Linked DNA regions of Homo sapiens: regions 1 and 2 are each linked to region 3. Evidence: fine-mapped QTL for protein levels in blood plasma. A gene starts in region 3. Each other region holds a variant in brackets. All regions are shown on one strand. Distances are from middle to middle. Region 1 has its middle 9.6 kb from the start of OBP2A. Region 2 overlaps LINC01502 (long intergenic non-protein coding RNA 1502). Region 3 holds the start of PAEP (progestagen associated endometrial protein).

Evidence for each region. PIP is the posterior inclusion probability: the model's chance that the variant is causal. The UK Biobank Pharma Proteomics Project read protein levels with antibody pairs (Olink). The fine-mapping took linkage between variants from a reference panel, not from the people measured, so its PIPs are less certain.
Region 1: its variant is fine-mapped to the plasma level of the PAEP protein (UK Biobank, PIP above 0.99).
Region 2: its variant is fine-mapped to the plasma level of the PAEP protein (UK Biobank, PIP above 0.99).

The regions. Positions count from the first base shown.
Region 1 is chr9:135,535,191-135,537,952 of GRCh38, forward strand. No RefSeq gene overlaps it. Among named protein-coding and RNA genes, the nearest start is that of OBP2A, 9.6 kb to the right of the region's middle. The variant C/T (reference allele first, on the strand shown) is at 1,192.
Region 2 is chr9:135,578,920-135,581,681 of GRCh38, forward strand. All of the region lies in intron 2 of LINC01502 (long intergenic non-protein coding RNA 1502), which reads left to right. The region is part of intron 1 of LOC105376316 (a long non-coding RNA gene); the gene reads right to left. Among named protein-coding and RNA genes, the nearest start is that of LINC01502, 5.4 kb to the left of the region's middle. The variant G/A (reference allele first, on the strand shown) is at 1,163.
Region 3 is chr9:135,560,123-135,562,884 of GRCh38, forward strand. It overlaps PAEP (progestagen associated endometrial protein), which reads left to right and starts at 1,634. Exons shown (of 7, transcript NM_002571.4): 1 at 1,634-1,775; 2 at 2,172-2,311; 3 at 2,698-2,762. The coding sequence starts at 1,680.

The sequences.
Region 1 (2,762 bases), 25 kb before region 3:
CTTGAGAAAGATTTCTTTTCTTTTTTCTCTCTTTTTTTTTTTTTAGACAGAGTCTTGCTCTGTCACCCAGGCTGGAGTGCAGTGGTGCGATCTCGGCTCACTGCAACCTCATCCACCTCCCAGGTTCAAGCAATTCTCCTGCCCCAGCCTCGCAAGTAGCTGAGATTACAGGCACCTGCCACCACACCTGGCTAATTTTTGTATTTTTAATAGAGATGGGGGGGGGGGTTTCACCATGTTGGCCAGGCTGGTCTCAAACTCCCGACCTCAAGGGATCCACCCACCTTGGCCTCCCAAAGTGCTGGGATTACGGATGTGAGCCACCATACCCAGCCTGAGAAAGAGTTCTGCGTTGTAGGAGAAATAGACTTCTCAAAGGGGCAGAGGAAGGAGTCACAGGTGTAAGCCCTTTTTAGCAAAAGCTCTAAGAAGGGGCAGCTGGGTGCTGGCCAGGACACACAGCAAATTCACCTGCAGTGCCGAGCTCTCAGGCAAGCATTTAGGGGGCTGGGGCCACCCCAGGGATGCGCCTCCTGCTGTTGGATGCCATGAGAGCTTGGCGATCTCCTGTCTCCTGGTGCAGGGGCTTGGGTGGAGCCGATCCATGCTGAGAGCTCTGCCGTGCTCAGTACATACGCACTGACACACTCAGCACATACGCACTGACACACTCAGCTTGGGTCCACATCGGAGCGCGGTTCTCCTGGTGTAAAGCCCCTAGAATCCATCCCGACACAACTGCCTCGGGGTAAGATGTCTGAGAAAGGGAAGTCTCATCTCCTCACGCAAAGGAGGAGGGGATGATTCTGCCCAGGCAGGTTCAGGGGGATTGGGGAGGGGAGGAGGGGGTGATTCTGCCCCGGCAGGTTCAGGGGGATTGGGGAGGGGATCAAGATTCTCACTTCCATCTGAGATCACATAAATGTCCCAGTTCTGTGTGTCATGGTCCCACTCCTTAAGCAGTGACCCAACTTTCACATAAAACACTTGGCGACTTTTGAATCCAACTCACCATGCAACCCACACTATTAAATGTGGAGTCTGATTTTCAGCCATTTCTGCTCTGTGGCTGCAAGAATGAAATATTATTCTATGGTCAGGATGGAATGTCTCCAGTGTCTTGCCTGTTACTCAAGCTCAGACCTTGGCATTTCCTTTCTGAAAGCCCCAGATCAGTCAGGCAGCCCCCGC[C/T]CCCTTCTCCTTGCAGTCATGATTACCACGTTTGTGGCCAAGCACAGCAGCCAGTTGGCTTCCCAAAGCCTTGGTTCCAGTGGGTGCCACGTCCCAATGAGCAACCACAGCAAACAATTTAGGGAATTGTGGTGTCACTTCATGCCGTGCCCATGAGTATCCCATTTTCCATCGACGAGATGCCCTCCCTGCATCTGTGCACACCCAAGAAATCTGCACACGCGCCTGTAGACATGAGAAAGCCCTGTGGTTGACAAGGGTGGGAAGAACGACTCCAAAGTTCCACTGAGTGAGGGGGAGAAGTCAAATAATTCCAAGTGCTTTCCCTCCTTGAGCTGCAGGAGAAAACCGTGAAGAAATGCATCCTCTGGTTGTGAGGCTGGGACTGGGAACAGATATTCACGCTCCCCTTCAGCCGACGGTGCATGGGGTCTTAGAACGCTTTCATTTGTTGGTCAAAAAACCCACAACCACAACCGAGCATGCAGGTTTTGCTGAGAGAACTTCAGATGCTTCATTCCAGCTCTTCTTTTCAGTATGTTTCACGGGGCTAAAACGAAGGTTGGCAGGGCTGGTTCCTTCTGGAGGCTCTTGGGGAGGAATCTGTCCCTGCCATTTCCAGCTTCCAGAGGCCTCCACATGCCTTGGCTTGTGGCCCCTCCTCCACCTTCAAAGCCAGCAGCACAGCCTCTTCTACTTCTGTTCATAAATATTCTCTCTCCCCACCCTTCTCTCTCTCCCTCCCTCGCTCCCCAGCCTCTCTCCTATAAGGGCCCCTGTGATAACAGTGGGCCCACCCAGATAATCCAGGCTAATTGCTCATCTCAGATCCTTCCTGAATTATATCTGCAAAGTCCCTTTTACCATACACACATCCATAGGGCCAGGGATGAGGATGTGGACATCTTTAGGGGACCATTATTCTGTCTACCACATACACACATCCACAGGGCCAGGGATGAGGATGTGGACATCTTCAGGGGACCATTATTCAGTCTACCACATACACACATCCACAGGGCCAGGGCTGAGGATGTGGACATCTTCAGGGAACCATTATTCAGTCTGCCCATGGGGGGAATTGGCAATCAATAGGACTGCAAGGAAATGAACAGGGTGTCTCCGGGGAGTGATGTGTCGTAATGGAGCGCAGCTCAGGGAAGTGACAGGGAGAGTAGGGGCTGCATCTTCCATTGTGTAGCCTGGAGAGGCTTCTCTGGGGAGGTGGTTTTTAAAATTTTTATTTGATATATATTTCACATGCCATCATACTCACTCTTTAAAAGTGCCCAATTCAGTGGGTTTCAGTAAATTCACAAGGCTGTGAAACCATCACCACTATCTAATCCAGGAGATCTTCATCATCTTACAAAGGTCCCCACGCCCGTCCGCTCTCACCCCCATTCTTCCCTCTGCACCCCAGAACCTCTCATCTACTTCCCGTCTGCATGAACTTGCCTGTTCTGCACACTTCATAGAAATGGAATCATACATATGTGTTTCTTGTGACTGGTTTCTTTCCCTTAGCATAATGTTTCAAGGTTTGCCCACGTGGTAGCATGTGTCAGTAT
Region 2 (2,762 bases), 19 kb after region 3:
TTTATCCACCCAACCAACCATCCATCCATCCATTCACCCATGCAATCATTCACCCATCCTCCCACCTATTCATCCATCAATCTATCCACCATTCATTCACCCACCACCCACCAATCCATCCATTCATCCATTTATTCCATTATTTATTCATTCATCCATTTATGGATATATACATGCATTTATCATCTATCCTCCATTCATTCATCTACCATTCATTCCCCCTTCACCACCATCAATTCATCCACCATCCATCCACCATTTATCTTCCACCCATCCATCTAGCCATTTGGCCACCTCTTCATCTATTCACACCCCCATTCACCCACGATTTATTCATCCACTCCATCATCCATCTTTCACCCATTCCCCAACCAGTATTCATTCATCTACCATCCATGCATACATCCACCCATCCACCATCTATCCACCCATTCATCCATTAATTTATCTATCAACCCACATATGCATCCATCATTCATCCTTCCATTCAACCATACACCATCCATTTATTCACCATAATCCAACCATAATCAGTCCATTCATCTATCCAGCCATACATACCCCTCTTACCATCATGAGTCCACTTGTCATCCATTCACACCCAATTCACCACCCACTGTCTATCTTCCACCCATCCATCCATCTATCCACACCTTCATCCATCTATCATTCATTGACTTACATCCCCCATCTTCCATCCATCCATTCTTCCATCCATTATTTACCTATTCATCCAGCCATTCATCCACCTCTCTGCTTCCCCATTCATCTATCCATAATCCATCCACCGCTCATTCATTCATCCATAAATCCGTCCATCATCCACTATTTATCCATCCTTCTATTCATCTATCCACCCACAATCATCCACCCACTATCCATCTACCCTCATCCCCAATCTCTCACCCATCCACCCTTCCATTATCCCCCATTCACTATCCATCCACCATCCACCCTTCCATTATCCCCCATTCACTATCTATTCATCCACCATCCACCCTTTCATTATCCATTGTCCATCCATTTATTTACCAACAAATATTCATGGCATGGTGATCAGGTAGTGCACCATTCTAGACTCTGTGGATACAGCAGCAAAATGCACACATACAGCAGTCCCTACCTTCCTGTAGGTCACTGTGCCCCGAAGCAAACCACTGAA[G/A]CCCAGCTGTGTCTGGTTACAGGTGCAACTATCCACATGAGCTTCTCCATCTGGACCCACTGTTAGTGTTTTATTCTTGTGAATGGTTTTAGCATTTAGCTAATAGTTTCCTGCAAATAGCCTCTCAGAACGAAGTTCCCTCTTGCACCTGTGAAAGGTCCCCAGCTAGCATTGCTAATGAGACAGCTGGAAGCTTCAAGACCATGTGTAGAATTTCACTGTGTGAGAACCAAACCAGAAAATAACAGGCCCAAAGAACCCCAGAGACTTAACTAAAACATAGAGGAAGCATTTTCCTGCAACCCTCGCCTTCATAAACCCTCTTATGAGAGCGATATTTTTGTCCTGAAAGTGAGAATACAGAGGTTCAGGAAGGTGGTGTTCTGTGTTCAAGGTCACACAGAAAGCAGCCAATGTGACCACGATCAGACACAGGTGTGCTCACTTTACCTTGAGACTGCGCTCCCTGCAGACAAGGGAGGGGCGGTGGACACCTGTGAAGCGGGGAAACGGAGGAACAGCGTTTTCTGGGAAGAGTGAGTGTCACAGCCAGAGGGCTCACACTGGGTGTCAGGTGACTTTTTCCCTCCCTCGCTTTACATCAAGGCCCCAGCCCAAATCCTAGGGGCACAAGATTCTCAACAGCCTTGTCTGCACCCAGGTATTAAATGTATGTTTCTTGGAGATGCCCAGAGACCAAGTGTCCCCAAGCATCCAGCTGAGCTTGCCAGCCCTTGCACCCCAGCCTTTGGCCCTAAGGAGGTCCACGCAGCTCAGCACTGTCAACCATGGGGCACTGCTCTGATGCACTGGGGCTAGAGGCAGAGATGACACACCCAGGGCCTTCTTCAGAGTCCGGGGAGTCCAGGGAGAAACATGAACGCTGCATTGGATTTTGCAACTTTGCTGGCAACTCATTCGCTTTCATCCACAAACACCTTGGAGCCTCCCCTGTGGCCAGCAGTGGGCTGGAGACTGGAAAGCTGGCAAAAGCTGCCCTGCCATTTCCACCATGCCTCAGGACAGGGGCAGATGGATGCCTCCAGGAGCCTGAGTGCTGATGCAGGTGCACCCCAAAGGGACCTGGCCCTGCCCGATCCAGGGAAGACTCCTTGGAGGAGGCGCGCTTGGAGCCGCGTGCTGAGTGAGGAGTAGGAGTGTGGAGAGGCAGCCAGGCCCCTTTGCCTGAACAGGGATCCAGGTGTCCCTCGAAGACACAGAGGCTGCCCCTGGTGTGGGTTAGAGTTAGGGATGGATGCCTAAAAAGTACAAGAAGAAAGAGGAACAAGTCCAGGATGTTTGAGCCACCTATCAGATATCTTACCGTGTGTGGCACTGTGGGCCCGTGGCTGTTGCGAGGCCATGGGGGAAAGTTGGAGACATAGAGAAGGAACAAGAAGCAGAAACACAAATGCTCTGGTGGGTGATTCTCACCGGAGCGGGGACCCTACTGTGACCTGCGCATGTGAGGGATCTGGGTTGCAAGCTCCTGATGAGAATCTAATGCCTGATGATCTGTCGCTGTCTCCCATACCCCCTAGATGGGACAGTCCAGTTGCAGGAAAATGAGCTCAGGGCTCCCACCGATTCTACACTATGG
Region 3 (2,762 bases):
CTCTTTATACTTTATTCTTCTTCAAAATGGCTTTAGCAATTGTAGCTCCTTTGCCTTGACATGTAAATTTTAGAAAAAAAAATTTCTCTATATATCTACATATGGTGGGGTGTGGTGGCTCACACCTATAATTCCAGCACTTTGGGAGGCCGAGGTGAGCAGATCACTTGAGGTCAGCAGTTCGAGACCAGCTTGGCCAAAATAGTGAAAACCCCTCTCTACTAAAAATACAAACATTAGCCAGGTGTGGTGGTGGGCGCCTATAATCCCAGCTACTCTGGAGGCTGAAGCAGCAGGATTACTTGAACCTGGGATGCAGAGGTTGCAGTGAGTCAAGATCGTACCACTGCACTCCACCCTGGGCAACAGAGCAAGACTTGGCCTCAAAAAAATGTATATATGTATATATGTGTGTGTGTGTGTCACACACATGTCTATAGCTACCTACAAAATATCTTGCTGAGAATTTGATAGGAATTGCATTAAATCTCTAGGTTGAGTTGAGGAGAGCTAACACCTTTGCTGTGTTGAAGCTTCCAGCCCATGAACACATTGTGCCTGTCCTTTACCTTAGGTCTTTGATTTCCCTTCCTTGGGTTCAGAGTTTAAGTCCTGTCCATATTTGGTGAGATTTTTGCCTACATGCTGTGTGTGTGATTACAAATCCTGAATTTCCAGTTTCGGGTTCTGTCTACTCCTTGACACTGTGTGGGAACACGGTGGATTTTTGTGCGATTGACCTTGCTGACCTCACTCGGTTCTAGGAGGGGTTTTGTAGAGTTCTTGCAATTTTGTACCTGGGCAATGATGTTATATGCGAATAGAGACAGGTATACCTCCCCCTTCCCAATCTGCCTGCCTTTAGTTACCATTTCTTGCCTAGCTGCTCTGGCCGGAATGACCTGCTCTGATGGATGGGGGAGTGGGAGTGGACACCCGTGTCTTGCCTCAGGACTCAAGTGCTCTCCAGGGAGTGAGATGCGGGCTCGATTGTAAGTTACAAAGTGATGCTTCCCTGTGGGAAAAAGTACATCCAATATAGACTGTAGGACAAAGTCTGAAAGTCCACTGCCTCCCATTTCCACCCAGTCTTGCCTGTGAGTCAGAGAGAAACAGTGCTAACAGGCAGTGTGCACCTGTCCAGAGGCTGGCTGTTTGAGGGACACAGGTGTGCACACCTGGGGATGTCTGAGTGGAAGGTACAGGTCAGGATTATGACCGTGCAGTCAGTCACCCACTGGCATGATGTCTGTGGCATCCTGGGGCAGCCATGGGGCTCTCAGGCCCTCTGCCTGCCCCACAGGCCATACCCCTGCCCTGGACACAGCTGTCCTCAGTGCTGGCCTCTGACCCAACATTGTCCAGGAGCCCCAACCCAGAAGGTGCTCCCGCCGCTGCCAGCCTGGACCCGACCCAGGCCCCTCCCGCCTGAGGCCCTGCCAAGAACTGCCCAGCCCGGACACAGAGGAGGTTCCCGCGTGGACGCAGGGAAGAGCCTCCCATTGCCCCAGTGGAGGAAGCTGCCCAGGGGCCAAGGATGAGTCACAGGTTCGAGGAATCACATGGCGAGGCTGTGGGCGGGGATCTTGTCTGCCCTCCTCCTACATAAGGCCCCCTGAGCCCACACTGCCTCAGCATCCCTCTGGCTCCAGAGCTCAGAGCCACCCACAGCCGCAGCCATGCTGTGCCTCCTGCTCACCCTGGGCGTGGCCCTGGTCTGTGGTGTCCCGGCCATGGACATCCCCCAGACCAAGCAGGACCTGGAGCTCCCAAAGGTTTGAGGCTGGGGGAGCGGGCACTTTACTGTGGGAGGCCTGGGGCGGGTGGGAGCTGCGGGCAGGCAGGAAGCCCAGGATCTCAGAAACCTACAGGAAGCACAGAATGGACGCCATGACGTCAGGAAGCCCTCAGCCCTGCTCTCCATCTTTAGGGTGGCCTCTCTGGTTTCCCAGCATCCTAGGTGACTCATTATTTGGACTTTGGAACACTCCTGAGTTAGCACACACTGGTCATTTTAAGTACAGGAAATTTCATAGCCCAGGATCTGGTAGATAGCAGACAACCATCCAATGCTCACTGTACCCATCCCAGTTAGACTCAGCCCCGTCTGCACCGGGTGCAACGAGAGCCATGGTGGGGTGGGACCGCCGTGCAGCCCAAGGCCCCCTCAGTTGGCAGGGACCTGGCACTCCATGGCCATGGCGACCAACAACATCTCCCTCATGGCGACACTGAAGGCCCCTCTGAGGGTCCACATCACCTCACTGTTGCCCACCCCCGAGGACAACCTGGAGATCGTTCTGCACAGATGGTGGGTTTCTCATCATTGAGACGGGCTGGGCGGGGGCTCAGTCTCCCCCCTCAGGGGTCCAGGACTGGGTGGGTTGGGCGGAGCTGGACTTAGCCCCAGGCATTTTCTGACAGCCAGGGGCTTCACTGTGGCCCTTCCATGAGGGTGGGGTGGAAAACCAGGGCTCCAGACGTTCCCTGTCCCCTTGGATCCCCTGCCCCAGGCTCTGGGCCAACAGCCAACCACACAGTGCAGCCCCAGGTCAGACTGAGGAGAAGGTCTGGGCGGCTGCGGGCTGCGGTGCTCCTTGGACCCGGGGAAGTTCCCGTGGTGACCTGATTTTAGGAGTGACAGTGAAGGCAACTCCAATTCAAGTGGCCACTCATCCTATTGTCACCACCTTTCAGGGAGAACAACAGCTGTGTTGAGAAGAAGGTCCTTGGAGAGAAGACTGAGAATCCAAAGAAGTTCA